7 separate regions of the Homo sapiens genome follow, and all the other regions are linked to region 1. Evidence: fine-mapped expression QTL. A gene starts in region 1. Each other region holds a variant in brackets. All regions are shown on one strand. Distances are from middle to middle.

What was found.
Region 2: its variant is fine-mapped to the expression of CHST15 in whole blood (TOPMed, PIP above 0.99).
Region 3: its variant is fine-mapped to the expression of CHST15 in fibroblasts (GTEx, PIP above 0.99). The same link has a PIP of 0.9 or more in whole blood.
Region 4: its variant is fine-mapped to the expression of CHST15 in whole blood (TOPMed, PIP above 0.99).
Region 5: its variant is fine-mapped to the expression of CHST15 in whole blood (INTERVAL, PIP above 0.99).
Region 6: its variant is fine-mapped to the expression of CHST15 in activated naive CD4 T cells (Schmiedel 2018, PIP 0.95).
Region 7: its variant is fine-mapped to the expression of CHST15 in monocytes after R848 (Quach 2016, PIP 0.95). The same link has a PIP of 0.9 or more in monocytes after Pam3CSK4.

What each region holds. Positions count from the first base shown.
Region 1 is chr10:124,091,445-124,095,509 of GRCh38, reverse strand. CHST15 (carbohydrate sulfotransferase 15) reads left to right here and starts at 1,912. Exons shown (of 8, transcript NM_001270764.2): 1 at 1,912-2,041.
Region 2 is chr10:124,023,809-124,027,873 of GRCh38, reverse strand. The region is part of intron 5 of CHST15 (carbohydrate sulfotransferase 15); the gene reads left to right. Among named protein-coding and RNA genes, the nearest start is that of CHST15, 68 kb to the left of the region's middle. RefSeq lists enhancers at 529-1,525, 2,231-2,400. The variant G/A (reference allele first, on the strand shown) is at 2,465.
Region 3 is chr10:123,995,742-123,999,806 of GRCh38, reverse strand. No RefSeq gene overlaps it. Among named protein-coding and RNA genes, the nearest start is that of CHST15, 96 kb to the left of the region's middle. The variant G/A (reference allele first, on the strand shown) is at 2,230.
Region 4 is chr10:123,988,514-123,992,578 of GRCh38, reverse strand. It overlaps the pseudogene YBX2P1. Among named protein-coding and RNA genes, the nearest start is that of CPXM2, 99 kb to the right of the region's middle. The variant C/T (reference allele first, on the strand shown) is at 1,570.
Region 5 is chr10:124,036,015-124,040,079 of GRCh38, reverse strand. It overlaps CHST15 (carbohydrate sulfotransferase 15), which reads left to right. Exons shown (of 8, transcript NM_001270764.2): 5 at 1,409-1,565. Among named protein-coding and RNA genes, the nearest start is that of CHST15, 56 kb to the left of the region's middle. RefSeq lists a silencer at 3,860-3,909. The variant TA/A (reference allele first, on the strand shown) is at 1,967.
Region 6 is chr10:124,063,999-124,068,063 of GRCh38, reverse strand. All of the region lies in intron 1 of CHST15 (carbohydrate sulfotransferase 15), which reads left to right. Among named protein-coding and RNA genes, the nearest start is that of CHST15, 28 kb to the left of the region's middle. The variant AG/G (reference allele first, on the strand shown) is at 2,018.
Region 7 is chr10:124,264,657-124,268,721 of GRCh38, reverse strand. No RefSeq gene overlaps it. Among named protein-coding and RNA genes, the nearest start is that of OAT, 150 kb to the left of the region's middle. The variant C/TC (reference allele first, on the strand shown) is at 2,192.

The DNA of each region.
Region 1 (4,065 bases):
GTGGTTTCTGACACCTGAATTTGAAAGTGATCTGGGTGGGCCCAGCGCCATCTCCATAACGGAGTTATGTGTTTACTTGGAGGGAGGAGAGGAAAGGCATTATTCCCTGGCAGTATGTGTGGCCCTGGAATAATGTTCCACACACCCTTACAGAAGGGGATTTCCTCCTTGCTGTTTCCACAGACCCTTCCCTGTGTTTGTTTAAACCCGTTGCACACTGGTCTGACAGCTGCCTGGCCCAGGGCCTTCCTTGCAGACGCATGTACAACCAACCCTCTTTAACAGCAACCTGCTCTGTGTCCCCTGATGCAATTACTCGAGTATATAAACCTCACTGAAAGGCAGGCTTTTCTTGGGAGCTAATAAATAAGCCCCAAAGCCACAACGTGTGTGAGACCTTGAAAAATGGCATCATCATCTATTGGGAATTGTGAACCCTGCAAAAAGCAGCTCGTTGTATTTTCAGAAATAGGTTTTTGTTTAAAAAAAAAATAAAGAACAAAAATCACTAAGTGGAGTCTATATGGAAAAAGCAATCTAGTCTGAGATTCTAAGGCAAGTCTCTTTGCTGCATTCATCTTTCTTCGCAGATTTTATGTAAGAGGCATTATTTGCAGGAAAACAAGACAGGATTTTAAAGAACTCCCCTCTCATCCCGGTTTCCCATCTGCAGTTATAATCCTCTGATGGTGACCTCTGCATTAGTTGCCATGGGTGCTGAGCAGAAGTTTATGACCTCAGGGTGGACTGTAGCTTCAGGGGGGCGAGATGAAGCCTCCGGCAATAAAGAGATAATGGGGAGAAGCCACTGTCAGGAATGACCCTTCGGTGGCATGTAGTCTACAGTTAACGGAGCACTTTCATTTCCACTTCTGGTTGCTTCGAGGAAGAGGGTGCTGGACTCTGGCCACGGGGACACAGGCCGGCAAGAGACTGCAGATTCTTTTTGTCCCTTGGACCTCAGTTTCCTGAGAGGCTGGGCTTGGTGCTCCAAGCGCCCTCTGAGCGAATCTGCCAGAATTTCATGTGTCTTTTCTTTAACTGATGGCATCTTCAGCCCAGAGTCAGTGGAGTCGGCCACTGGTGCCGCTTTCTTGCCCTCGGGCTGTCCAGGTGGTTCCCTGGGGCAGCCGACTCCAGGCCACTGCGGCAGGCCGTGGCGATCGGGGTCCTGCAGAGCTTTACCTCCCCCGCGGAAGCAAAACACGCCGGGCCAAAGAGCCGGGCCAGCCTTCCCGGGATGCAAAAATACAACAGAGGGCGCCGAACTCACCAGCGCTGTGGCCTTGAATATTAATGTACGGGCTGGCTCCAGACCGCCAAGTTCCTTAAAGATGTCTCTGGCGGCCGGGCGCGGTGGCTTACGCCTGTAATCCCAGCACTTTGGGTTGGGGGGGCGGACGGATCATCTGAGGTCGGGAGTTCGAGACCAGCCTGACCAACATGGAGAAACCCCGTCTGTACTAAAAATATAAAATTAGCCTATTTTGCGTGGTGGCGCATGCCTGTAATCCCGGCTACTCGGGAGGCTGAGGCAGGAGACTCTCTTGAACCCGGGAGGCTGAGGCAGGAGACTCTCTTGAACCCGGGAGGCGGAAGTTGCAGTGAGCCGAGATCGCGCCATTGCATTCCAGCCTGGGCAACAAGAGCGAAACTCTGTCTTTAAAAAAAAGAAGTATCTGGCAAGGTGTCACTGCCAGATTTCAGGGGTTTCGATGTGCTTTTATTTGGAATCACCGCAACACACAAGCAGTGTTGACTCGGAGGGGGAGGGGGCAGGGGCCAAACCCACCGCTCGGCGCACACGCCTTGATCTCACATTCCAGACTGGAGCTGATGTGTGTCAGCGCGACATGGGGCGGGGGGAGGGTTCTCCTCGGATGTTTCATTCGCCGTCTGCACGTCACTCCCAAACTTTTCCTCCCAGCGCTCGGGGAGTCAGGTTGACGCGCCCTGGATGCGGGGCTAGAGGCTCGGGGCTGGGCGCGCTCCCGCGGAGCCGGAGCCGCAGAGGCTCCCGGGCTGGACTCAGGCTTCTCAGGTACAAGTTAGGTGCCAGACGCCGAGGTGGGGTCGGCGAGGAGCGGCGGTAGGAGGTCTGGCCCTGGGCTCGGGGCTCCGGCGCCCCTCCGCGGGTTCGGGCCAGGCAGCGCCGGCGGCGGCCGGGGCTGGGCGTAGGGAGTCCGGGCCGGCGGAGGCGGCGCGCAGCCTCACTCCCCGCGGCGCTCCCGGCGCGGTGGTGGCGGTGGCGGTGGCGGCGGCGGCCCAGGCAGACAATGAACTTGCGAGCTCGACGAGCCGAGGCAGGTTTGGGCCCCGGGCTCCTTGGCCCGGCCTCCCCGAGGCTTCAGCGATCCCCAGCGGGAGGAGTCCCTTCGCCATTGGTCCTGGCCGCGCTCCGGGCGCCCTGCGCGCTTGAGGACCCCGCGGGAAGGGTTACCCAGCGGCGACACACGCCCCCTCCCTCGCAGAGAGGACGCGGCCGGAGCGAGGGGACAGGGGACCGAGCAGTGGCGTGGTGGCGCCGTGGATAGCCGGAGGCCGGCGGGGGGCGCAAGCCGCGTGGAACGCACCGGCGGGCTGTCCGGGAGAAGGAGCCCAGTAGTCGGAATCGGGGCGCCCCTGCACCGCCCAGCTCTGGGAGCCGCAGGCGGGGGACCGACCGACGGACAGACCAGTGCTTTCACGGTGTGAGCGCGCGTCGTTTGGCGGTAGGGGACGGGGATTCCCCCCAGCCTTGCGCTCCGCCCCCACACCCCTATCGCACTTTGGGGAAGTTTCCAGGCGCGGCCCGGGGCAGGTAAGTGGGCATCCGCCACTCTCTCCCCGGTTGCGAGCTCGGATGCGCTTCCAGAACCCTGGCTCTAGCCTTGCGGCGGTTCCGGGCGGGGAGGCCAGAGCTCTCCCGCGCCTAAGCCCGTGGGACCCGGTTCAGGGAAGGGGGATGGCGGGGGCGGGCCTGGGAAGAGATAGGGGAGCGGCTGAGCCCCGAGCGGTGTGAACTTTTGCTCCCCGCCCCCTCCTCCTTCCTCCTCCCCGCCCCGCCCCCACTGCTGTCCCCTCCCTGCGCCCCGCCGCGTCTCGGGAGGCGGCGTGACTCGGGAGTTGCCGGCGCTTCCCGGCGGTGGCGGCGTCTCTGGCCGGCCTTGGTGCGGCGAGCCGAGCGAGGCAGCTCTGAGCCGCGCGGTGAGGCCAGAGGCGGGGAGCCGGGGCTGCGGGGCGGCGAAGCTGGGGAGCCGGATGGCAGCGGCCGGGGCGCGGAGGCGACGCTGGCGGTGGAGATGTAATGCGAGTCTGTTGGGTTGTGTGTGCCGGGAGATAGGACGCGGTGGCTGTGGGTGGCTGGGTGGCGGGCTGTGGCGCAATTGGCCCCCTGGGATGGCAGGATAGAGGCGCCGGGGCGAAGGGAACCTTGCCTTTGGGAAAATGAATGAAGAGCCGTGGAAGCACCTTCCCGACTCCTCCAGGCAACCGATGGGCCGGCGTGCGCGCGAGTGTGTGCGTGTTGAGGCTTCGGAGCCGCCCGGGTCCTGGGCACAGCTGCTTGACCTCCCCGTCGCTGTCCGGGTGCCCACGTTCCCGCCCGCCCTGCGCCCGGGGCCGGCCGGCGCGGCTGGGACGGCGGGTATAGAGGAGGAAGGCTGGGGCTGGGTTGCCGGCTGCTGGCGGCTGGAGGTCCGCGCCCAGTGTAGGGAAGTCTTCGAAGGAGGCTGCCAGGCTGGAGGCTGGGACCAGCTCCTGGGGGCGGGGGCCCTTCTTCGTCTGCCTGCGTGCGCGGAGCCGCTGTGACAGCTGGGCGCCTTCGCCTTGTTCACGTTGGTTAAGTTAATTGTACCGAGTTCTCGGGAATGAAGTGTGGCTCCGGGATGCCCCGCAGAGGGATGTGACAAGCCGGTCAGTGAGGCTGAGCAAAGGGGCTAACCTTGCCTCTGGGCGCCCTAGCAGTGCCCCCAGCCCCTCTTTATCAGCTGCAATTCCTGAGTGTTGTGGGATGCCTCGGTGGGTTAGGGTAGCCACCCAGCGTTGGGGCAGAAAGGCCTCGGAGGGCATCTGCACCCCCGAGGG
Region 2 (4,065 bases), 68 kb after region 1:
CACATCCAGCTGGGTGAGGCGCTTTGGGGTCAGGCAGGCCTGGGTTTGTTTGGGTCCCAGCCCTGCCCTGGAGCTTCCTGGGCTGCGTGACCATGGGCAAACTCCTTAACCTCTCTAGTGTCAGCCTTCTCCCCCAGTAAAATGGGGTGGCCCACATCTCATTATGGGGTTGTGAAGATAGACGCAGAGCATGCATGCAGCACCCTGTACAGGGCATGGTGGTGGTGGCCCTCCCTACCCCCCAGCATCCACATCAGGAGTGGAAACTGAGAACATTGCAGGTACTAAACCCGGAAAGCAATCACACAGAGCCCTGGCGGGAGGAGCAGCAGCAGCTCCTGCTTTAATAGTGATCAACTCACCAACCTCTGCTCGCTGGCTCAGAACAGCACGCTGTAAGTGTCCCTGAATGAATCCAGCAGTGGTCTTGGCTGTAAGTGTCCCTGAATGAATCCAGCAGTGGTCTTGGCTGTAATCATCCAGATTTTACATAGTAGGGCCTTGCCACTGCTGGCCTCTCCTTTGTCCCTTGGGGAGAGACATGGTCACTTTCAGAGGCACTGGATTGATGGAGCCCTATGCCCCCTAACATACATTTCCCATCCCACCGCTCCTCCAGGGGTCCCAGGACCCCTGCACTGCACAGGAAAGGGGCTGAGCAGTACCCCATGAGCACGGGCCCAGTGTGAGGGGCCGCGCCGACAGCCTTCTAAAATAACCGCAGCACAGAAGGCCTGGAATGCATTTGGACTTATATTTGGAATTGTCGTTGGAAACAGTCCTGGCCAAATGTAATACCCATCTGTTCGGGATGGTTTGAGAGTAAGAAAATGAGGTGGCTCAGCTGGAGGGGGCTGGGCAGCCCTGAAACTCAGGGCTGGGAGGGTATGATGTCCCCTGGCCCCCACGCTATCCTGGAGCCCTCCTTCCCTCCAGCCTAGGCTGCTCCTGCCTTCTAGGACCATCCCCTCGTGTTAGCCTGCCCTGACTGGAGGTATTTCCCCTTGCCTGCAACCAGGCTTTCTTCCCGAACCTTCTGCCCGCTGGTCAGTCCTTCAGGAGTTCGGGACTGGGCTCCTTCCTGCTGAGTTTTTGCATCTCCAGGGAGAGCAGCCAGGTTTGGTGCCCAGCACTGAAAGCAAGCATCCGCTGAGGCCGTGAGCTGCCTGTCGCCTGGCTCCACCCTCCCACATTCCTCATGCCGTGCCCCTGTTAATGCATCCTGGGGTTGCATCCGTGCCCCTGCAGTTCTGTGATGATTGATCGTGAGCTGTGTGTTTTCCATTACATTGGTCTCCTTCCCCCACTTCCTCATGGGATAGTGGATTTTGAAGACTAAAAGGTAGACATTTCAGTTTGTTTCTGTACGTTTCATCTTGTTCCACAGTGTGCCTGTCTGGCCTTTTGACGTCCAGTGGATACTTGTTCTTGATATGTTTGCTGTTCTCAGCATTTTCTGAGTGGCTTTAACCTATCCGAGTGGCTTTCCCCCACCCAAGATTATTAACTCACTCTTTTCCCCTGGAGAGTAGTCAAGGGGGAAATGATAGCTTTGTTACTTGAAGACAATCTTAGGAAGCATTCGCTTAATTCTTGGGGAGAACCCAAAGAGTGCTCCCCCGTCTCAGTGCTCCCCTGTCTGAGTGCTCCCCTGAAGGGAAGTGCTCCTGTCCGCATTTGCCTTCCTTCATGCTTCCTTCTGGGAAATGTGGCCACATGACCCCAGTCCTCCCCTACCCTCAGGGCCACTGTTCCAGGGTCTCAGGGTGGCAGAGAAGTATTGGCAAAAATAACTCCTTGGAGTAATTGGTCTTCCTTAGAATTGGGGTTTAAAATCTGTCTGGTTTCCTAGGGCAGTCATAATAAATCACCACAAACTTGGCTTCTTAAAACAACAGAAATGTAGTCTCTTATGATTCTGGAGGCCAGAAGTCCTAAATCAAGATGTCTGCAGGGTTGGTTCCCTCTGGTGGCCCTAAGGGATAAAAGCCGTCCCCTGCTCCCAGCTCTTGGTGGCCTCCAGCAGTCCTTGGCGTTCCTTGGCTCATAGACGCCGCACTCCAGGCTCTGTCTCCGTCTTTCTGTGGTGCTGTCTGTCCTCTCCTCTTTTTATAAGGACACCTGCCATTGGATTTGGGACCACCGTAAATCCAGGAGGATCTCGTCTTAAGATCCTACACTTAATGACATCTGCAAAGACCCTATTTCCAAGAAAGGTCACATTCACAGGGGCTGGGCTTCAGACTTGGACATAATTCTTTGGTGTCCACTATCCATCCAACTACGGAATCCAGATGGTGGCCATGGCTTGTGGTGAATCTAGTCCCTGTTCAGATGTCTGTGACACAGCAGGATGCCAGGGACCCAGCATAGTTTCTCGCAGTGGGGTTCGAGGGGCTCCCAAAGCCCACTGCCAGTTCTCTGAGCAGATCCAAAGTACCCAGAGGTGACTGAGAGGCCAAAG[G/A]AGTCTCTTTTCATCCAGCCGAGGAAGGAGCGTGGCCTGGCTCTCAAAGGCTGTACATGTGACTCACAGGAAGTGAGGTAGTGAGTTCACTTTAACCCACCTCAAACAGATGAAAATCAGCCGTTTCACCTGCTAGGGGTGGGCTTGCCTGGTTGGAACAGTAGGTATGTCCCAGTTTTTCCTAGGGATTACTTCTTGATCTCTGAAGAATTGTATGGAATCAGCAGATTCCTCATGAAGTGACTTTGTATTTAAAATCAAGACAAGCTTAGGTGCTTTTGTTTTATTTATGAGCCAAATATCTGCAAGAAATGTTATTACCACAAAGAAAATTCTCAGTATGGAAACCTTCAGCCAGTGTTTGGGTTTGTGTGAGGTAATTTATGTGATGGAATTCCAGTTCCACCAAACAATTTGGGTAGTTCTGTGGGCATCTTTGGTAAAAACTGGGCTTCGAATACTTATTTAACGTGGGATTTTATGACAGTTTCAGAAGCATCTGTTACTTTTCATTGACGTAGTTTCTTGGGCTGAGCCATATTATTGACAGGACTCATAGGAAATGTGTGAGCCAGGAAGGGTACCCCTCAGACCAATTGCCACCTGGCACCCCTCAGTGCACACAGCCAAACCTTGCTTGAAGGTTCACGCGTGTCTGATTTTGGCACTTATTGACCAGCCATTTAGGTCATAGTAACCATGAGCGACCCTATGGCGACAGATGCCGTGTTTCAGTTTTGATGTGTCTTCTAATTCTGAAGAAGGAAAATAGCACAGGTGATGTTGGGGACACCAGTAATAAGCTGATGTGGTGTTGTCTTGGGGAATATTCTCAGGCGAGTGTGGATCTGGGGAAATCTACTCAGTGGCCACCGAGCCCCTTTGCTGACTGTCTCTTTGGACAGTTTGGCTGGCCAGGCTGTGGTAGATGGAACACTCCTGTTCCGGTGGGTGTTTTGATTCTAGGAACTCTGTGGGTAGATCTCAAACTGCTCAAGACTTCCAAGAGGTGTCCTCTGTGGACATTGGCCGTGGATGAATTCTAGAGGGCTGTGTCAGAGGCACCCGATGTGCCAAGGTGGGCTACGGAGGTGGATAGCTTCTGGGCCTGTCCCTAAGAAATGCTGCTCCTCATATCATGACCTCAATTAGAGGGGAGGGCAGTGGAGAAGGCGCATTTGCAACAGACCCTGCTATAAGGGAGCACAGTTTTTGCAGGGTAGTATGTGGCTGAAGGTCTGGGAGCGTTTGGAAGTATGGATGGCGGCTGGGCGTGGTGGCTCACGCCCGTAATCCCAGCACTTTGGGAGGCTGAGGTGGGTGGATCACCTGAGGTCTGGAGTTCGAGACCAGCCTGGCCAACACAGTGAAACCCTGTCCCTACTAAAAATACAAAAAATCAGCTGGGTGTGATGGCAGGCGCCTATAATTCCAGCTACTCAGGAGGCTGAAGCAGGAGAATTGCTTGAACCCGGGAGGCGGAGGTTGCAGTGAGCCGAGATTGCGCCATTCCACTCCAACCTGGGCAACAAAAGCGAAACTCCGCTTCAAAAAAAAAAAAAACGAAGACGGAAATATGGATGTCAGATACCTGGATGCAT
Region 3 (4,065 bases), 96 kb after region 1:
CTGACCCTGGCCAGGCCGGCACCTTCGCCTCACTACGGTCCCTTCCCTGACCCTGGCCAGGCCAGTGCCTTCGCCTCACTACGGTCCCTTCCCTGACCACTTACACAAAATAATACCTCTCCTGCATGGCCAGCCTCCCTGCTTGATTTGCTCACAGCTGTCACCTGAGACTGGACCATCTGTGTGTCTGCTGCTGCTTCAGCAGCCCTCTGCCCATCAGGGACCTCCGCTCCTTGAGGTGGGAACTCTGTTCATGGCTGCAGCCTCAGAGCCTGAATCAGTGACTGCACATAATACTCACTCAACAAACTTAGATGGGGCAAAGGCATGTGTGATGATGCTGTAGAGCAGGCAATCCCCCACCCCTCGGGCATGGGCCAGTAGCAGTCCTGGGCTACACAGCGGGAGGTGAGAAGCAAAGCTTCATCTCTATTTACAGCTGCTCCCCATCGCTCACATTACCACCTGAGCTCCACCTCCTAGTGGTAACGTTGGATTCTCATAGCAGCTCCAACCCTATTGTGAACTGTGCATGTGAGGGATCTAGGTGGCACATTCCTTACGAGAATCTAAGATCTGTTGCTGTCTCCCATCACCCCCAGATGGGACCACCTAGTTGCAGGAAAACAAATTCAGGGCTCCCACTGATTCTACATGATGGTGAGTTGTAGAATTATTTCATTACGTATTTCAGTATAGTAATAATAGAAATGAAGTGCACAATACATGTAATGAGCTTGAATCATCCCAAACCATCCCCCCCACCAAACTGTGGAAAAACTGTCTTCCATGTAACTGGTCCCTGGTGCCAAAAAGTTGGGGCCTGCCGCTCTGGAGTGTGAAGCAGGGAAAGAGGACCTCACCGTAAGGGCCAGGCTCACTTTCCTAAGGAAGGAACAGGGAGAGCCTAGAAGAATGCAGGCCTTGTGCAAATGTCAGAACCTCCAGCAGAGGAGAGGTCTGCAGGGTGCATGGGGGCTGTGACCCAGATGGCATCAGGAAAGAGGTGGCGTTAAGCTGAGCCCTAAAGACTGGCAGGATCTAGAAAGGTGGGCAGGCATGCCGAGAGGAGGGGCTGGGGTGAGCAGGGGCAGGGAGCAGGGAAGGCCAAAAGAGCAGGGAAGGTCTCAGTGCCTCCGGAAAGGAGTATACGAACATTCTGGGCTTTGGAGTCAGGGAGACCTGGACTACAATCCTGGCTCTGCCATTGTCCTCTGTGTGACCTTAGGCAGAGGGTTTGATGCTACTGAGCCTCTGTTTTCTTATCTGCAGAATGGGTATGCACTCAGACTCAGGCCCTTATGGCGATAAGGGTTCACGCATGTAATACCCTCCACATGGCATCTGGACCCTGGAGGTGGGGGCAGGTCACCTCAGCAATGGTCCTCAGGCACGATTGTTGTAGCAGTAGGAGGTGAAGCCACCCAGGTAAGTGGGCACAAGGTCAAAGAGGGTTTGGGTCTCAGGGTAAATGCCTTTGGTTGAACTAGTGGTGTATTGAGCTTCCCACACTGACATTTTCTGAGCAGAGGAATTATTGGTTAGCGCAGGGATTTAGGTCATTAATTTGGAGCAGGTAGAAGTGCCTGGAAATGGAAGGACTAAGGCTGAGGCTTCTATGGTCCAAGTGAGTGATCACAGGGGCTGGGAGTAGGAAGCACGGCTGAAGGGCCATCTCAAAGGCACTGTACCAATGGGATGGTGACATCACTACTGACGGCACCCACAGAGCTGGGGTATATGTATGCTTATGTGTAACTTCCCATTTTACAGAAAAGGAAGCTGGGGCTCAGGGAGGTTAGGTGACTGCTCCAAGGTCACACACTTAGTACTGGACCCAGTGTTGGAACCCACCAAATCTGACCCATCTTGTGCTTGTCACTAACTGAAGGATGTGGCAGGCAATGGAGGCAAGGTCAAAGGCAAAGTCAAGCCCCAAATGGTCAAAGACAAGGATTAGACTTGGAGCTGGTGTCCAGCCTGAGGGTGGAGGGGTGAGGGACATTTACCGTAGCAGGGGAAGGCTGGGTCGAGTCAACGTTCTTGCAACATCCGTAATTGCAGCGTTAGCTGGGCAAGTTAGATGGGTGGGGAAGTCCTACTTAACCACATAGACATTTCTTAAACATTTTATTTTTACTTCAAATATGTGAAGTACAGCACATCTATTTGTCTGCCTTTTGGTATGGAGCCAAAACCTTTTCTCTGAGCATGAGCCCACTGATTGGA[G/A]CTCTGGGTCATCTCTGTGGCAGAAACCACAGAGCAGTGAATCAGCACTGATTTCTGGTTTCAGTGTTTCTAAAGGGACATGAGAACTGGAAGGCGCTTGCAAGGCAATCTCGAGGCAGAGTCCTTCATTATTTGTGTGATTATTTTCCCCAAATCATTACCCTCATCTGTGCTGGGACTTTCCAAAGCTTCCAGCCTAGCATTCAGGGAGCAGCTCCCTTTCTGCATTAATATTTCATCAGCTTCCCTCAGTGGCTCTCCGAGAGTGGCCCAGGGACCACTTGCGACCCTTTCAGGGAATCCAAAGTCCAAATTCTTTTCACGGTCAAACTGAGATGTTGTTTGCCCTTGATGCTCTCATTTTCTCCAGAAGGTACAAATAAAGATTTTCAGAGCCCCCAGCCCCCAGCCCTGGCCTCTGACAGCCGACGGAATGCGTGCTTGTGTGTCTCTGTGCTTTGAAAGTCTCTCATCTTTAATTTTGAAGATAGTCAATATCAATCAATGCAAGCCACTGAAACAAAAGCTGTTTGGGATCTTCAATGATTTTTAAGAGTATAAAGGAATCTTTAAACAGTTTGAGGCTGGGCATGGTGGCTCACACCTTTAATCCCAGCATTTTAGGAGGCCGAGGCAGGAGGATCCCTTGACCCCAGGAGTTTGAGACCAGCCTGGGCAAGATGGTGAGACCCTGTCTCTACAAAGTAGGTAAGTAAGTAAGTAAGTAAATAAATAAATAAATAAATAAAAATTAGCAGAATGTGGTGGCACACACCTGTGGTCCCAGCTACTTGGGAGGCCGAGGTGGGAGGATCACTTAAGCACCAAAATTTGAAGCAGCAGTGAGCTGTGATCATGCCACTGCACTCCAGCCTGGGGGACAGAGCAAGACCCCACCTCTGAAAACAAACAAACAAACCCAACTAGTTTGAAAACTTGCTAGCTTATATGATATTTAATTAACCTGTGCCTTCATAATATCAAGAACAGCTGGCATGAAAAAGGCTCGGGGGCAAACACAATTGACTTGTGGTAAATACAAGATCAGCTGGAGGGTGTTTTGCCAAACGGCTGAAAGCCAGGAGAGCTGAGCACGCCCAGGATGTCTAGGGGACATGGACACACCTGTCACCTGCAATGGCCAGATGAGAGGCCATCCATGGTAAAGGGGATGAAAACGGTCATAACAGGGCCAGCTATGATTGAACACAGGGTGAGTGCCACGCCCTGTGCTGGGGCGTCTCCTCGTGTCTCATTAGATCCTCACTGCAACCCCAGGAGGAGGTTTTATCTTTATTCTGGTTCCGCCATTATAAAGGTGGGAGAATTGGGGCTCAGTCCCCTCAGCTAGTAAGGAGAAGAGCTGGTCCTTGATCTCAGGTCTGCTGGTCCCCAGAGCTCGAGTCCCAGCTTCAGCTTCTCAACTCTGAGTCTCTGAAAAGGGTTTCCAAGGAGGCGGTGGAACCGTGTGGACTCAATGACTTCAGACATGGTCTGGGGCTGGGAGGCCAGACCGAGCTGCTGCAGGTAGGGAGGGCTGAGGTCAGGGTTGGGTGCCATCTTCAGGTTGTGGAAGCAACAGCAATGCCAGGACAGCAGGGCCTCCTCCTCCCCTGCGACCCACTGTGTGCCCAGACTCCCAGGGACAGAAACTCCGTCCTGGGCTCCACCGCTGCCTTCACTGCATCCCCTCCCTGTCCCACATCCCCCTGCAGGCCAGAGCCGAGCTGAGTGTGCTGCTGGCCATGGGGCTCTTCGCAGGCGCTGTTGAGCAGATGGGACCGGCTGTGCCCTGGGCCCTTCCACCTCACAGGCTGACGCTTGCTCAGAGCCCAG
Region 4 (4,065 bases), 100 kb after region 1:
CTGGGCGGGGGGACCCACTCATCTCCCTGCTGTTGGTGCCCCTCCAATGGGGCTGTCTGTTTGGTTCTACCCCATCAGTGCCCTCTATAGGCTGCTGCTGGTTGGGGGGCCGGGGGCCTCGCACAAACCGCCGTAGGTAGAAGGGTGGGGGGCGCCATCGTCTGGGCCGCTGCCCAGAGTCTTCGGCCCGCTCCCCTTCGCCGCCAGGTTCTGTCCCCCGAGAGGGGATCTCTGCCACCATGGGTGGTGGGGCAACTGAGGGAGGCCGGGGATGAATCAGCGGAACCTACGTCGGTTGGGGGCATAACGGTGCCCTTCATGGGCACCCCCGCCGCCCTGGGCCCAGTTACATTAGTGGCTTCTGCGCCCTTCTCTCCTTCCACGACATCAAATTCCACAGTCTCCCCATCTCTAACGCTGCGCAGAAACTTCCTGGGGTTGTTTCTTTTAACAGCTGTCCAGTGAACGAAGACATCTTCCTTGGCGTCATTCCTGTTGGTGAATCCGTAACCACTCCGGACGTTGAACCGTTTGGCAGTGCCCAGGCAGGACTCGGGTTGCCAGCACCGGCTTGTCCGCCTGACTCCGGGCGGGGGTTCCCGAGGCCGCCGTCGCCGGGTTGCCAGGGGTGCGGGGGCCCGGCGCCGAGGGGGTCCCAGCAGCGGGGTCCAAGGCGGCTGCGTCCCCGCCGCAGCCGCCCGCCCCGCCGCCTGCTTTCTGCGGCTCCCCTGCGGGCACCGGTACCACCACCGCTACCACCCCTGCCACCGTCGCGGGCACCGTCGCCGCGGGGACCGCTGTCGCCACCGCTGCCGCCTCCACCTCGCTCATCCCGCCGGGTCCAGTACCGGCCCCCGCCGCCACCGCCTCCTCCGCCGCCGCCGCCACCGCCCCGGCCCCTCCCCCCGGCTGGCGAACCCGCTGCGCTGCGCGATCCTCGCGCCCCGAGCCTCGCCCGGACGCCCAATGTCTTCATTCTTAATTGCTGCACTTCTTTTTTTTTTTTTTTTTTTTTTTTTTTTGAGATGGAGTCTCGCTCTGTCGCCCAGGCTGGAGTGAAATGGCTGATCTCGGCACACTGCAACCTCCACCTCTCGGAGTCAAGTGATTCTCCTGCCTCAGCCTCCCAAGTAGCTGGGATTACAGGCGTGTGCCACAACGCCCGGCTAATTTTTGTATTTTTAGTAGGACGAGGTTTCACCATGTTGGTCAGGCTGGTCTCAAACTCCTGACCTCAAGTGATCCTCCCGTCTTGGCCTCCCGAAGTGCTGAGATTACAGGCATGAGCCATCATGCCCGGCCTGCACTTCTTAATCGCTCCCTTTCCCCAGTCCCTCAAGCCCATGCTTGTTCACGTATCACAGCCCCTCACCAACCAGTGGCTATGCCTCTTGGAACACGGGGCCCTCTCAGCCCATGCACCAGAAGAGGGAACTACCATTGCCTTAGCTGAGAAGCGACCCATTTAAGTCCACTCACATTTCAGTTGCCAGAACTCGATCTGTGTCCCCATCCAGCTGTGAGACGGCCAGTCTGCCTTGGCCTGGATGGAGAGATGCTGTCAGGAAC[C/T]TGCGCTGTCTTGCATTTCACTGAGGACTCCTATGAGACTCTGCAAGGAGAAAAACCATATGATCGTCTCAATCAACGTCAACAAAAGGATTTGACTAAAGGTAACATCCCTTCATGATGAAAATCACCAACAAATTAGGTGTGAAAAGGAACATATCTCAACACAATAAAGGACATATATGACAAACCCACAGCTAATATCATATTGAATAAAAAAAAGCTGAAAGCTTTTCCTCTAAAATCTGGAATAAGACAAGGATGCCCACTTTCACCACTTGTATTCAACATAGTACTGGAAGTCCCTGCCACAGCAATTAGGTAAGAGAAAGAAATAGAGAGCATCCAAATTGGAAAGAAAGAAGTCAAATTTTCTCTGTCTGCTGATGACGTGATCTTCTAAAGTCTTCACCAAAAAAACCGTTAGAATTCATAAGTTCATTAAAGTTGCATGGTACAAAATCAACATACAGAAATTAGTACTGTTTCCATACACCAATAGCAAACTATCTGAAAAAGAAATCGAGAAAGCAATCCCTGGGCTGGGTGTGGTGGCTCACGCTTATAATCCCAGCACTTTGGGAGGCTGAGGCAGGAGGATTGCCTGAGGTCAGGAGTTTAAGATCAGCCTGGCCACATGGTGAAACCCGTTTTGTATCTACTAAAAATACAAAAACTAGCTAGGCATGGTGGTGCACACCTGTAATCCCAGCTACTTGGGGGGCTGAGGCAGGAGACTTGCTTGAATGCGGGAGGCAGAGGTTGCAGCGAGGCGAGATAGTGCCTCTCCCCTCCAGCCTGGGCAATAGAGTGAGACTGTGTCTCAAAAACAACAACTACAACAACAAACCAAGAATACATTGAATCAAAGTGGTGAAAGATTTCTACAATGAAAATATAAAATATCAATGAAACGAACTGAAGAGGACACAAATAAATGGAAAGGTATTTTATGTTCATGGGTTAGAAGAATTAATATTGTTAAAATGTTCATACTGCACAAAGTGATCTAGAATTTCAATGCAATCCCGATCAAAAAAATTAACATTCTTCACAAAAATAGAAAAAACAATCCTAAAATATGTACCAAACCATAAAAAAACCCAAATAACCAAAGCAATCTTAAGCAAAAAGAACAGAGCTGGAGGCATTAAACTACCTAACTTCAAGATACACTACAAAGCTATAGTAACCAAAACAACATGATATTAGCATAAAAACAAGACATATAGACTAATGTGAGAGAATGGAGAACCCAGAAATAAATGCAAGCAGTTATAGCCAACTGATTTTTTTTGACAAAGGTGTCAAGAACACACACTGGGAGACAGGACAGCCTCTTTAGTAAATGGTGCTGAGAAAACTAGATATTGACATTCAGAAGAATAAAACTCTACCACTTTCTTTCACCATATTAAAAAAAATCAACTCAAAATGGATTGAAGAGTTAAATGTAAGACCTGAAACTGTAAAACTACTAGAAGAAAACATAGGGGAAATGTTTTAGGACATAGGCCTGGGCAAGGATTTTTTGTTGCCTATGCTCAAAAGCATAGGCAACAAAAGCAAAAATAGACAAATGGTATTATAGCAAACTAAAAAGCATTTGTACAACAAAGGAAACAATCAACAGAGTGAAGAGACAATCTATAGAATAGGAGAAAATATTTGCAAACTATGCATCTGACAAGCGGCTGATATCCAGAATATATAAAGAACTCAACTCACTAGCAAAAAACTAAATAATTGAATTTTAAAATGGGCAAAAGATCTGAACAGATATTTATCTAAAGAATACATAAACATTGCCAACAGGAGTGTAAAAAAATGCTCAACATCACTAATCATGAGGGAAATGCAAATAAAAACCATAATGAGATATTACCTCACCCCAAGTAGAATGGTTATTACCAAAAAGACAAAAAACAAAAGAAATACTGGCAAAGATGTGAAGAAATGGGAACCCTTATGTAATAGTCTGTTCTCACGTGGCTAATAAAGACATACCTGAGACTGAGTAATTTATGAAGGAAAGAGGTTTAATTGACTCACAGTTCCACATGGCTGCAGGGGCCCCACAATCACAGTGAAAGGTAAAAGGGAAGCAAGACATGTCTTACATGGCAGCAGGCATGAAGGCTTGTGCAGGGGAACTGCCCTTTTATACAATCATCAGATCTCACGAGACTTATTCACTGTTATGAGAATAGCATGGGAAAAACCCACTCTCAAGATTCAATTACCTCCCACTGGGCCCCTCCCATGAAACATGGGCATTATTACAATTCAATATGAGACTTGGTTGGGGACACAGAGCCAAACCATATCACCTTATATACTGCTGGTGAGGAATGTAAACTAGCACAGCTGTTATGGAAAACAGTATGGAGGTTCCTCAAAAAATTAAAAATAGAGCTACCGTATGATCCAGCAATCTCACTGCTGGGTATACTGTATATATCTAAAGGAAATGAAGCCAGTATGTCAAAGAGACACCTG
Region 5 (4,065 bases), 55 kb after region 1:
AGGGACTTCTGATTGACTCGTTTTTTCTGTATCCTAGGGTATTATCTCTTTAAAAAAAGAAAGAACAAAAGGCCAGAACAGAGCTGTTCACCTGGATGTGATTACGCATCCGACAGAAATGATAGGGGCCTGCAGGGATATGATACACTTGTCACTGACCAAAGAGACTCAGTCATCTGGCTCAGTCTCTCCCCAGATAAGTAACTTTCAGATGTGTCCTGTGGTCCTTGGCAAACTGTCAGGAAATCAAGTGTAGAGCTGATTGATGAATTTCCTTTTTCCTAAACACACACATATACACACACACATACACGCACACACACTGTCTCTCCTCAAACCCTCAGGAAATTTGGCTTCATCCTCTGAGAGAGTCTGTGCTGTTGGAATGCCTGCCTGTGTCTTGGCATCACCTCTGTGCTGGGACGTGTGTTTGCCATTTACATCCTTCACTCGTGAGGACCATGATGAAATGTGAAACTGGCTGGGACCCAGTTCCCGTTCACCCAGGCTGCACTGAGTAGGCGCCAGCTGCGTGCAGAGCAGTCGCCTCGCAGGAGACAGGGCGTGTGAGCCCTGTGGCAAAGCCCCTCTCTCTTTTAGTCTTAGAGTATGCTCTGTGATGAACAGTTACAGCTTCAAGGAAGGAAATCACACTCAAATTCCTCATAAGGGTTAGTGTTCCCACCCTCCTCCTTTCTCCTGACGCTTTGGAAGGAAATCATCTAGTACCAGCTCCAGGCTCCTGGTCTGCTAGACCAGTTCTCGGCTCCTCCCGGCTCTGAAATGTGGCTCAGCTCTGCCCCAGCTCTTTCTCTTTGTTAGATCCTGGGCAGAAATGTCAAGGCCTTTCATCATCTTGGGCCCCCAGTTCAGAGAGAACTCCATCTATTATTACTAGAACCATCTACTGTATAGAACATATATTGGAATACTATACAGGAAAACCATTTTCAAAACCACCTATAATTTCCCACCTAGATAACTGCTGTTTATGTTTTGGCGTGTTTTTCTGACAGACTGCATTCTCAGTGGGCCCTTAAAATGCCACAGAGCTGTGCACTGTGAGCAAAGTTAAATACTGTGAAACTGGGGGCCCAGGTGCTAGGGAAGGTTTCATTTTTGCTCCCCTTGGAAAGAGGAGCTCAGGGGTGGGGGCACTCAGTGTTGCATGGATCGCCTGGACTTCCAGACAGAAGTTTTTGGGGTGGAGGTGGGGTGTGGCTGTGGCAGGGGGGGGCATCCAACCTTCTCTCTTTGGAGTCCCAGATGCCCGCAAAGGCTGACAGCTTGGCCTCTCCCGCTGCTTAAGAGGAAGGCATCGGGGCCAGGTGTGGCCTCTGGCACCTAGAGCCACTCCGTGGGAGCCTGAATCACACCCCTGCTCACTTGGAGTGTTTTCTGTTTCCAGGGGAGGCCAGTGCCTCCACGATGTGGGATAATAATGCCTGGACGTTCTTCTACGACAACAGCACGGATGGCGAGCCACCGTTTCTGACGCAGGACTTCATCCACGCCTTTCAGCCAAATGCCAGACTGATTGTCATGCTCAGGGACCCTGTGGAGAGGTGAGCAGTTTCTGTGTGTTGTATTTGGGGTGAGAAGAGGAACTTTTGAAGAACAGTGTTCCCCTCTCATGACAAATAAGATTTTGTCTCCTTTAGAAAAAATTAAACAGGTCGGGTACAGTGGCTCATGCCTGTAATCCCAGCACTTTGGGAGGCCGGGGTGGGTGGATCGCCTGAGGTCAGGAGTTCAAGACCAGCCTGGCCAACATGGTGAAACCCCATCTCTACTAAAAATACAAAAATTACCAGATGTGGTGGCACACTCCTATAGTCCCAGCTACTCGGGAGGCTGAGGCAGGAGAATCGCTTGAATCCAGGAGGCGGAGGCTGCAGTGGGCCAAGATGGTGCAACTGCACTCCAGCCTGGGTGTCAGAGTGAGACTCCATCTCAAAAAAAAAAA[TA/A]AAATAAAATAAAAACAAACAAAAATAAACGGAACTTGCAACGTTACTGCTGTTTCTTACGTAAGTGTTATTCTTGAGGCTGTCCCCACTGAGTTGACACATGTTGCAGATGGTTTTCTTAACCATTCTGATCCTGGTCTGTGTGACTTCAGCCCCAGCAGGCCTGACCAGGGGCACAGGACGGTTCCTTGGTACTGTCAAGGCGAGGGAAACACCCTTAGAATCAGGGGTGTAAGCTTCTCCACGTGGTTTAACTCCTAGAATTCTGTGTCTCTCCACGTGGTTGATGCCTTTATCCTTGTCTGCGTTGAATGTACAGTTTCCAGCTTTCCTTGAGAGACCAAAAGGAAGAACAATGCTGAGCAGAGCAGCTTTGCTTTAAGATCAAGGGTTTCCCAGTGTGGGTGAGGCCAGGGTAGTGGGATATTGAACAGCCACTATGGGGCGGCCTGGCTGGCACTGGGCACTGCTTGCATCATTTATGCCTGTGTGAATGCAGAATCTCAGGGCTGCCAGGACCTGAAAATTATTTGGTCCAGTGCTCCCTCCAATACTTCCACATCAGAGCTAAGGGGGCACCTGTCTAATCCGAGGCCCTCTGAGTCAGGGAATTCTCCGCGCAAGATGGCCAGTGTAGCTTAGGACAGCTGTGTTCCTATTTTGAGACCAGGTCTGTTTTGGGGAAACATCCACTCATTGGTCCTCTTTCTTCTCCATAGAGTCAGACAGACCAAGTCTAATCCTTCCAAAACAGGAGAGGCTGGCGATATTTAAAGACAGGGACCACAGCCCTTTGTGTCTTATTTTCCTTTGGGCCAACTACATCTTCTTATGGATTGAATTGTGCCCCCCAAAAAGATAAGCTGAAGTTGTCTCCCCCAGTGTGTATGACTGTGACCTTATTTGGAAATAGGATCTTTCTTTGCAGATGCACTCCGGTTAAAATGAGGTCATACTGGATCAGGGTAGACCCTCACCCACCCTAAGACACAGGGAGCATGCCTCTTGACGAGGCTGGAGTGATGCTGCCACCAGCCAAGGGGTGCCAAGGAGTGCCGGCAGCCACCAGAAGCCAGGAGAGGAGTGGAACAGATTCTCCCCTGGCATCCCAGAGGAACCACCTCTGCCCCACACCTGGGTTTCAGACTCCAGCTTCCAGGACACTGAGGGAAGAAAGTCCTGTCATTACGCACCACGAGTTCGTGGTGATTTGTCCTGGCAGCCCCGGGAAACTGACCCCTGGGACCCCTTCTTCAGGTGGCATACCTTCCTGGCCCCACGTATTTGCCAATTATAACAATAAGGCGTGTTTGTTGTGGAAATTTTGGAACATATATTGGAAAACTGTTTTCAAACTATTAATTTCTCACCTAGATAACTACTATTTATGTTTTGGTGTATTTTCTTCCAGACTTTTCTATGCAAATAAGTGTGTGTGTGTGTGTGTGTGCACATGGGTGTGACAGGACAGTCTTATGTCCTGCTTCTTTCACTTTGCATTGTTGCCCCCCAGAAACATGCTTTAAAGTCTGCTCTGGTCACACTTCTGAGCTGATGTCCCTCTTGTGGAGTCTGCATGGCTCCCGCTGCTCTGAGTATGACCTGGTCAGGGAGAGGCTGGATCTGCCCTCCCTCAGCCCCAGCGCTCTGAGCCTGAGCTCTTGGTGGCTGTCCCGGTGCCATGCCTTCTAGCAGGTGCCAGGTGTGGTTTCGCTCCCTGCTCTCTGCATCTCCCAGCCCAGGACTTCTTCCACTCTGTTCTGAGGCAGGCACTGACTTGCCGTCCCTTGCCATGTCCCACCTGCTGGTTCCCGTGTTTTGGAGGCAGAAATCGGCCCTGCTGAGTGGTCTCCCTCCATCCAGCAGGGCTGACGCACACTAGCCGAGCTCTCATGGTGACATAACTGTCACCTCGAGCTGACCCCTCGCCGCCCCCGGAGGTGTTTGCATAGCTGCTCTGCCTCCCTCCCCGACACGGCCCCCAGCTGAAGGGCGCAAGTGCTCGGTGTGCTCATCAAATGTTTTCCTGTCGCTGCTGCTTAGTTCCTCATTCTGAGAAAGGTCAGACCACGCCTTAACCTCAGGGGCCGAGAGTGCA
Region 6 (4,065 bases), 27 kb after region 1:
ATTAAGGCAAAGTTTCTGGTAGTTTGACATTACGTATCTGGATAATTGCCTCAATGTATCATTTTCACTTTGCACCCGCAGACACAACCTTTAATGAAACTTGAAAACCCAACTCTCCTTGGGGGAAATGATACTCACTTCTGTTTCTAGGCCAGGCGCAGTGGCTCCCGCCTGTAATCCCAGCACTCTGGGAGGCCGAGGCCAGCGGATCACGAGATCAGGTGTTCGAGACCAGCCTGGCCAACATGGTGAAACCCCGTCTCTACTAAAAATACAAAAATTAGCGGGGCATGGTGGTGGTCGCCTGTAATCCCAGCTATTTGGGAGGCTGAGGCAGGAGAATCGCTTGAACCCAGGAGGCGGAGGTTGCAGTGAGCTGAGATCATGCCACTACACTCCAGGCTGGGTGACAGAGCAACACTCCGTCTCAAAAAAACCAAAAACACAAAAACCATCTGTTTCTAAATCTGTTTCTGAAAGTAGTTGAGGGCGCAGACTTCCACTTATAAGCTTAATTGCCCAACATGCAGAAGAAGTCTCCAACTTCCCTGTTTATCAGGCTTGAAAGTCAGCCTTGGTTTGGGGCAGATGGCCTGCTCCTGGTCCTTATCTGGGAGATGAGAGGTTCCGACAGTGTGATCTCTCAAGTGCCTCAGTTTGGATCTGAGCTTCTGTTCTAGCGGCTTCCATGCCCAACTGGATTGCATATCTTAGGAAGCAGGACAGAAGTGCACCTGCACTGATTACTGAGCAAATTGGTCTGAATAAGTGCAGTAGATGCCAGAGATTTCCACGAATGATGTGAATGTGATCACTGGCCAGAAAATATCCATGGACGATAAATATCTGGGCTTCATGCTCTGAAAAATGTTCCTAATCTCTTCTTTGTGATCCCCAAAGAGATTTTTAAGGGAGTTTGGAAGTCTGCCACTTGCAGAAGTCCTGGTGTTCCCAGCACTAAGTGCAGGATGTGGAGTCTGGGGTGCGACTGTCTTGTCACTCAGATGGGGCTGCATGCCCGGCACAGTGCTAAGTGCAGCCAGTTACTCTGGAATGTGCAAATGGCCCCTCTGCCCCAGCTGCAGAGCGCCTTGCGGGTGGCTCAGGTCCTAGTGGGGATAGGAAGAATGGGACAAAAGGAGGAGGCTAAGCCCAAGGCATGTGCTGTCACCAAAAGTGCTGGCTTCATCTCAGAAAGCTGTGGCTGGGTTGGGCTTGGTTGCTCAGGGGAACAGGGAGACGCAGCCCAGGAAATGAGCTGTGGCTGGGCTGGAGCCCACCTCCCCAGGAGGGAGGTGCATGGCAGCCCAGGTGGGGTGCCCCCATCCTAAGATGAAAGGTCTCCACCTCTTGCTTAAATTGTAAGGTGAACGCTTTTGGCCATTTCTAAGGAAAAGCACCTTTGGGATTTGTTCATCATCCTTCATTTTTGCTCAAGGTTTTGGGTGTGAAAACCTCAGAAAAACTAAGTCAACCAAAGACTTTCCAGCGATGTCATCGACTGTGTTGTCATCCAAAGGGGAAAATAATCCCAGCTTATGAATATTTAGAAAGAAGATAATTGCAAATTGCTTTGTGACCGTGTAAACTCGTTTTTTTTTTTCTTTCCCCCAGCCAGTTACATAAGAGGAGGTGTGGGTCAGTCCCAGAAATAGATGCAGAAGCAGTGACAGAACACGTCTTGGCGGTGGTGGAGAGAGACAGCCCTGGGTTCGAGTCCCAGACTCGCAGTGTGTTAGCTAAAGAAGTTTGAGAAACATCCGTCTCTTTCTTTCCATTTCAGCCTCCTCCCCCTTCCCCTAGCTGGTCGACGCTCAAAGCTCTCCTAGCCCAACACTCTGTAACTTGAGGAATAATGTTTTAAACCCCCAAATCTAGTCCTCCCATAAAACCCAGTGAATCTCTCAAATTGATTAAATGGAGGCACTCATTTTATTAGATAGGTAACTGGTATTTTGCCTTTTCTGAAGGGTAGAAGAGGGGAAAAAGTGACTGAGGGGACCAAATAAGAAAAAAA[AG/G]ACAAAAAGACAGAAGAATTCGGGTTTTTAGTTGATTCCGAATACTCGATGCTTTTGAAACGTTTCCAAGTTTCCTTTACGGGAAAGGAATGCAAATGATCCAAAAGGGAGGAGGGATTTTTTTCCCCCTTCTTTTTTGTCCTGAGCTCAGTACCTGGGATTTTGCGGCATGTGCTGAAAAATTATATCTTCTGGGTGCAGAAATTTGCCTGAAAGGGTTATACGAAACTGAGAATGGGTCAAAACAAAACAAAACGGAAAAAACAAGACTTCTGGCCACAGGTAAGAATCATATAATTTACTGAGACATATCATTTTGGCATGTTTTGTTAAGGGTGAAAGCTAATTTGGAAGAGGCAGGAAGGGGCTCTTGAGGTTGGTGGGAATGAGCTGCCGTAATGGGGCCCGCAGAATCACCCTTGTGTCTGCTCCCAGCAGGACTGGCGGGGGAGGGGCAGGGAGTAGCTCTCTGTGGGTGTCGGGAACCCCAGGGCCAGTGAAGCCTGGGGCCAACCCCCAGCAGTCCCACAGCAGGGTTGGGTGACAACAATTTGCCTGAAAGTCATGGAGAAACAGGTTTTCAGTGACATAGAGACTAAGCCTAGAGGCAGAATTGTAAAACCTACCAAGTTTTATTACTTATTTACTTTTTTTCTTCTTTTTGAGATACGGTCTTGCTCTGTCACCCAGGCTGCAGTGTAAGTGGCATGATCATGGCTCACTGCAGCCTGGATCTCCTGGTTCAAGAGATCCCCCGACCTCAGCCTCCCAAGTAGCTGGGACTGTAGGCACCACCACTATGCCTGGCTAATTTTTAAATTTTTTGTAGAGATGGGGTTTTGCCTTGTTGCCCAGGCTGGTCTTGAACTCCTGGGCTCAAGCCATCCTCCCACCTCGGCCTCCCAACATGTTGGAATTACAGGCAAGAGCCACCGCGCTCAGCCCAAATTTTAAATTTAACCCCCGCCCCCAACATGTATTGGGCATTCTGTCTTTATGACTGGGCTATGTTTTTATGTGTGTTGCCTGCCTACCTTTAGAATTTTCTTCAGGACTTTTTTTTGTAAAAGCGAACAAAAGAAGAGACTCTTTTGCCTTCACAGAGCTGATAGGACTGTCAGCTGGTTAAGGCGGATGCTAGTCAGACAAGCACACACAAAAAACGGAAGTGGGAAGGGTTGGAGGATCAGGGCAGGGCCAGTGTGGTCTGGGGTTTCAGGGAAGGGGTCCTTGCCTGAGATCTGAAGGGTGAGCAAGAGCGAATGCATCTAGCAGGGCCAGTGGTGTTGGGGAAAATGGGATCTGGCTAAGGAGGCTGGGAGAGGCAGAGATGGACACACAGAGACAGCGAGATAAAGGCCGCCAGCAGGAGTGGGGGCTCGGGGGTGGGGTTGGGGGGATGCAGTGCTGCAAGGGGGATTGAATGTTCCCAGGTACAGCCCAGCAACGAAGAGGGGCTCAGGGCTTGGGGGACCTGCCCAAAGTCACAGAGTGGGTATGGTTGTTTCATGATCTCGTGGTGTCTCCCGGGCCGCAAGCCCCACAGCGCCAGGGCTGTGCCTACGCTGCGCACCCTGAATCCCCATGGACTCCCAGTCAGGGGCTTGCGTTCTGCTCCGTGGCCACTGCTGTACCTTTGCAAGGATGGGGAAGGCCTTGGGGATGGGGAGGCCATCACACAGGCACTTTGACTGCATCAAGCGAAATTCTTACTTAATCTGAAATGACTTCAGGTCTGAAAACTGTGTGCTTTGATCAAATATTTACTTTTCCGAAACAGAAACCAGAGCAGGTCTTGATTGTACCAGTCAGCTTGAACCAGTCAGCTACAATGACTTTTCGTAAGTCTATTTTTTTTTTTGAGATTTCGTTTTAGCCCAGGAGGAAATCTGCTATCTGCAAGAAAGTCCTGGCCTTCATAATGAGGCCTGAATTCTTTCCAGATCTTATGAGAAAGATTCCACTCTTCTGTGATTAATTCAGAGAGGTTACTAATTTCTCATACCATAGATCGTTTGCTTTGTGGGAGATGACTGTGCCTCAGCCA
Region 7 (4,065 bases), 170 kb before region 1:
CTCGAAAGCTGAAGGCCAGGCAGCTACTGATGCCTCCATCTCCGCCCTGACCACCTGCAGATAAATCACCAGTGGAAACAAGTTTCCCCTCAAGGCTTCAGGTGTTTCCCTAATTTGTTCCTTAGAGCATTGTCTCAGGAACAGCATCCGGAGACACCTGTTTTTCTATGCGGATGTTTTCCACCTTGCATCCCAAGGAGACAGACTCCTCGGAGCAACCTTGGTAATAGCCAATCAAATGGCTTGCACTGCCAGTGCTCAGTCTGTGCTTTAGAAAGAGGAGATGTCCTTGGAAAAAAGGTTTTTGTGGTCACATAAGTTAGGGACAGTCTGGACTCTACTCGTTAAACAGGGCTCTGTGCTGCAGGACATCTCAGGGCCTTTAGCCAAGTCAGTCTTCAAGAGGGGCCTCCTGTGTGCAGGGCTTCTCAAGGACATTAGACCAATGAACACCTTGTCCATGGAGCATCTGTCTGTCTCCCAGACCTGGTGCTCTGGGGTTGTGTTTTTGGAAACAGTTGTCGGAGCTGGACTCACCTCTGGGGGTCTTGCCCAAAGCCCGTCATTTCACGTTGGGAGGGAGAAAGGAATTGCCAGACAGAGCCAGCAGGGGTTCCCTGGGCTCAGGACCTCTGGCCAGGCTCCTTCCTCCTGTGCAGGCCTCCTGGTGCCCCTGCCTCCTGCTCGGGGACACTTGTGTCCAAATTCCTGGGTCCCCAGAGGGACCAATTTTTCTTTCCAATGGGCTCTTCTGGAAGGGGTTTGGAAGGGTGCACTGGTCTGGGCTGTGCCCCCATCTGTGTCCAGGCCTCTGATGTGGACCTGTGGGAACCTTCCTTGCTGTACCTCCAGCCTCAGAGACAGCCATGTCCTAGCCCTGAGTCGGATACTGAGTAAAAAGCAATCATGACCCCCACATTCCCTGGCAGGGCCATTTGCAGGCCTCAGAGGGGGGATAATGAGTGTCTGGGTGGTGACTGTAGTAACAGGAACTCTGTGGGCCAGTGACAAGGCCCAGCTCTGGCCTCTCTGGGCCTCCCTTAATAGCCTGTGGATTGCAGCATGGATGGCAGCCAATGCCATGGGCTCTGACAGCTGGAAGCGCTCAGTGTCGCCAGCCTAGGGGGACTGCACTCGCTGAAGTGAAGCTTGAGGCTGGCAGAGAGAGGCCTGCATGTCAGGAAACCCTGTTCATATGACAGATTTGCTGTGTGACTTTCCTGTAAGGACCACCTCCCAGGAAGGACACAGGAGCTTCCTTGATTCCTCTGGCAGGTTTTTATGGAGAGCTGACTCAGCGGCAGCCTCGCGTGAGGCCCTGTGTCCCTGTGGTGTGCAGAGAGATGGCATCTTAGTTTGGGTTCCTGGAAGGCCAGGCCTGAGACTTGGGTGCAGGTGGGCTATCGGAGCAGATCCCAAAAAGTGGAGGCATGGGAGTGTGGAGAGTAGGAATAGGAGGAGGAAACACGAACACAAGGGCTGTTGAGATTGCTGCTGTGGGCCCTGAGGCTTGACACCATTGAGACCTCCTGGGTAGGGACAAAATTGTCCACTGGAAGGGCAGAGGACAGCTTACCCACTGGCTCACGACACCCCTGGTCAGAGGTTTGCCCTTGGGGACTTCACCCCCACACTTCCAGCTGTGTGTGCTTGGCCTGGGCAGACTCCCATGTGCCTGGAGACACGCACGAGGCAGGTGTGAGACCAATGCTTTCAGGGCCAGGGAGTGTGAGGTCAGCTAGCGCCTGCCACCAAGATGCTGAGGCAGAGGTGGGCTCAGGGGTGGGTGCCTCGAGGGGCACCGGGGGTGTCTGTCACATGCCGTTTGTCTGTCCCTAGGGCATGGTGAGATTGGAGGGCCTCCAGCTGGTGGAGAAGAGAGTACGGAGTGAGGCCTGAGCCTCCTGTCCCAGGGCGTGTCTCCCGCCCGGCTTCCATCGCAGTCCCTTCATTACCCTTGCACGACACCACGGTACCTTGAGCAGACCAAGGTAAAGGGCTTACTTCTGGAAAATGTGGTCAGAGGAGTCCAGCTCCCCAGCACACCTTCCTGGCCCGAAAGCTCTCTGGAGCTCTAGAATGTCCTTCCAAGGTGCTGAGTAATGATTTACTCATTGCTGTCAGATAGGGAAGTCTTACCCAGCTTCTTGAAAAACCAAGTTAGAAAATCAAGCTGGGCTTTTTTTTTTTT[C/TC]CCCATAGAAGCTGAATTAGTAATAGAATTTTTAAAAATGTGGTCATGAAACTGTTAGTCTAAACTTGAACATGAGCCCTGCTAAGGTGGCTGAAATGGTTCCTGAAACCTGGGGGCTGCCGGGCTGGTGGAAGAGCTCCTCCTCCCTGTAGGGCATACCTGCGAAGCTCCTGGCTGGGGAAGCTGCACCGCAGGGGATGTGCATTCTCAGGACCCGGTGTACTCCTCGTGGCTCTTGGTGGGCAGTGGGCATGGTTTCTGGAGGCGCCGTGGAGTGGCACTAATTCCGTCATGCAGGGCTGTTCCCCAGCTGAAGGAACCTGCTCTTTCTGCACAGCCAGGTTTGATGTCAGGATAACTCGAGTGGAAGTGAATGTCCTTTCCTGTCTTCTAGGAAGGTTCCCCAGGGAGGCTCCAAGGCAGAGGTGTGTCCCGGGTCTGGGGGAGGGTGGAACAGCACCACCTGAAAGCAACTGGGCCTGGGGCAGCCACTGGGGAGCCCGGATGTTCTGGGCACTGTGCTGGGGCTGGGAGTCAGGCAGGGGTGGGTATTGGAGAGCAGGGCTGTGGTGGGAAGGACAGAGCCGGTAGGGGCAACAGCAGCAGGAACAAGGTCTCTAGTCCAGTGGGTCAAATTCCAGGTTCCAGAGCCCTGGGTGGGAAACCACCATTGCCCCACCAAGGCCTTGTCCAGCCTTGGCTAGGCCAGTGGTTTTCAGCTTAGCCAGGGACCCAGCAGACACAGGCATCAGATTTAGGAACAGCACAGGATGGAGAGAGAGCATTTATACTGGAAGCCAGAATTAGGATTAAAACAAGATCCATTGACTGGGGAGAGGGACAATCTTGGCAGAGGAGAGGATTCAGGAAGAAGGGGACAAGTCCTGTAAGGGGTCTACTGTGTGAGTGCAGGGGGCTGGGGTGGGGAGGTGGAGGGATGGAGTCAGCAGCCTAGATAGCACATGGCTGGGGGTCTGCATACCCACACCCTCCACTGGGAGGGCCCCAAGGCCATGTCTGGGACGTGCCCCTCCTGGGCTACCACTGATTGGATGAGAGAGGGGGCTTGATCTAGGGGGATCCAATCAGATTCAAATCCAGGGAATTTGGGATTGGATCAGAGATGTTGGTTGGTTGGATGGTGGCACTGGAATGGAGACAGCCATGCACATCGGAGTGTTTGAGGCAGGTGCAGGGGCAGAAGATCTGCAGGAGAGGGAGGATGAGAGCCTGAGGGCCCGAGAGGGGGTGAGGATCTGCACAGCCCTGGGTAGGGCGAGTGGGGGTTGAGAAGGCAGTGGCTCGAGAAGGCAGTGGCTCCTTCCAAGCAGAGTCTGGTCCCCACTGCCCGTTCCCACACTTCCTCAGTTCTTGGGTTCCTTGATGTGTTCCCATGCCGGTGGTTTAAGTCCACTGTTGTGAGCTGATCTGAGTAGGCTTCATTTACTGCACCTCAACAGGCCCTGGAGAGCCGGGGACCTCACTGTCATGGTGGGACAGATGCCTACGGGAGGAGAAGTGGGCAGGAACAGGGCCCGGGTGGGAACGAGTGGGCAGTACTGCTGCCCTCTGCGTGGCAGGACCACACTAGATCCCTGCAGCCCACTTGGCACCACCTCTGGAGAAGGGCAGCTCAAGCTGGTGACTGCTCCGTGGAGGGTGGCCCTGGTGTCGAGGGACCTGCCCCCCGGCAGCGAGGAAGGACTGCAGGGTCCCACCTTCCACCTGGAGAGAAGCTGAGTCAGTGAAGGACGGAAAAAGCATGTTCGATGTTTGAAGACTTGTTAGAGGAAAAGAGGAGACTGTTCTGTGCTCTCCAAGGGTCTTGGGTTCCAAAAGTCGAGGGTCCACTGTTGGCTCAGTGTAGGGGAAAC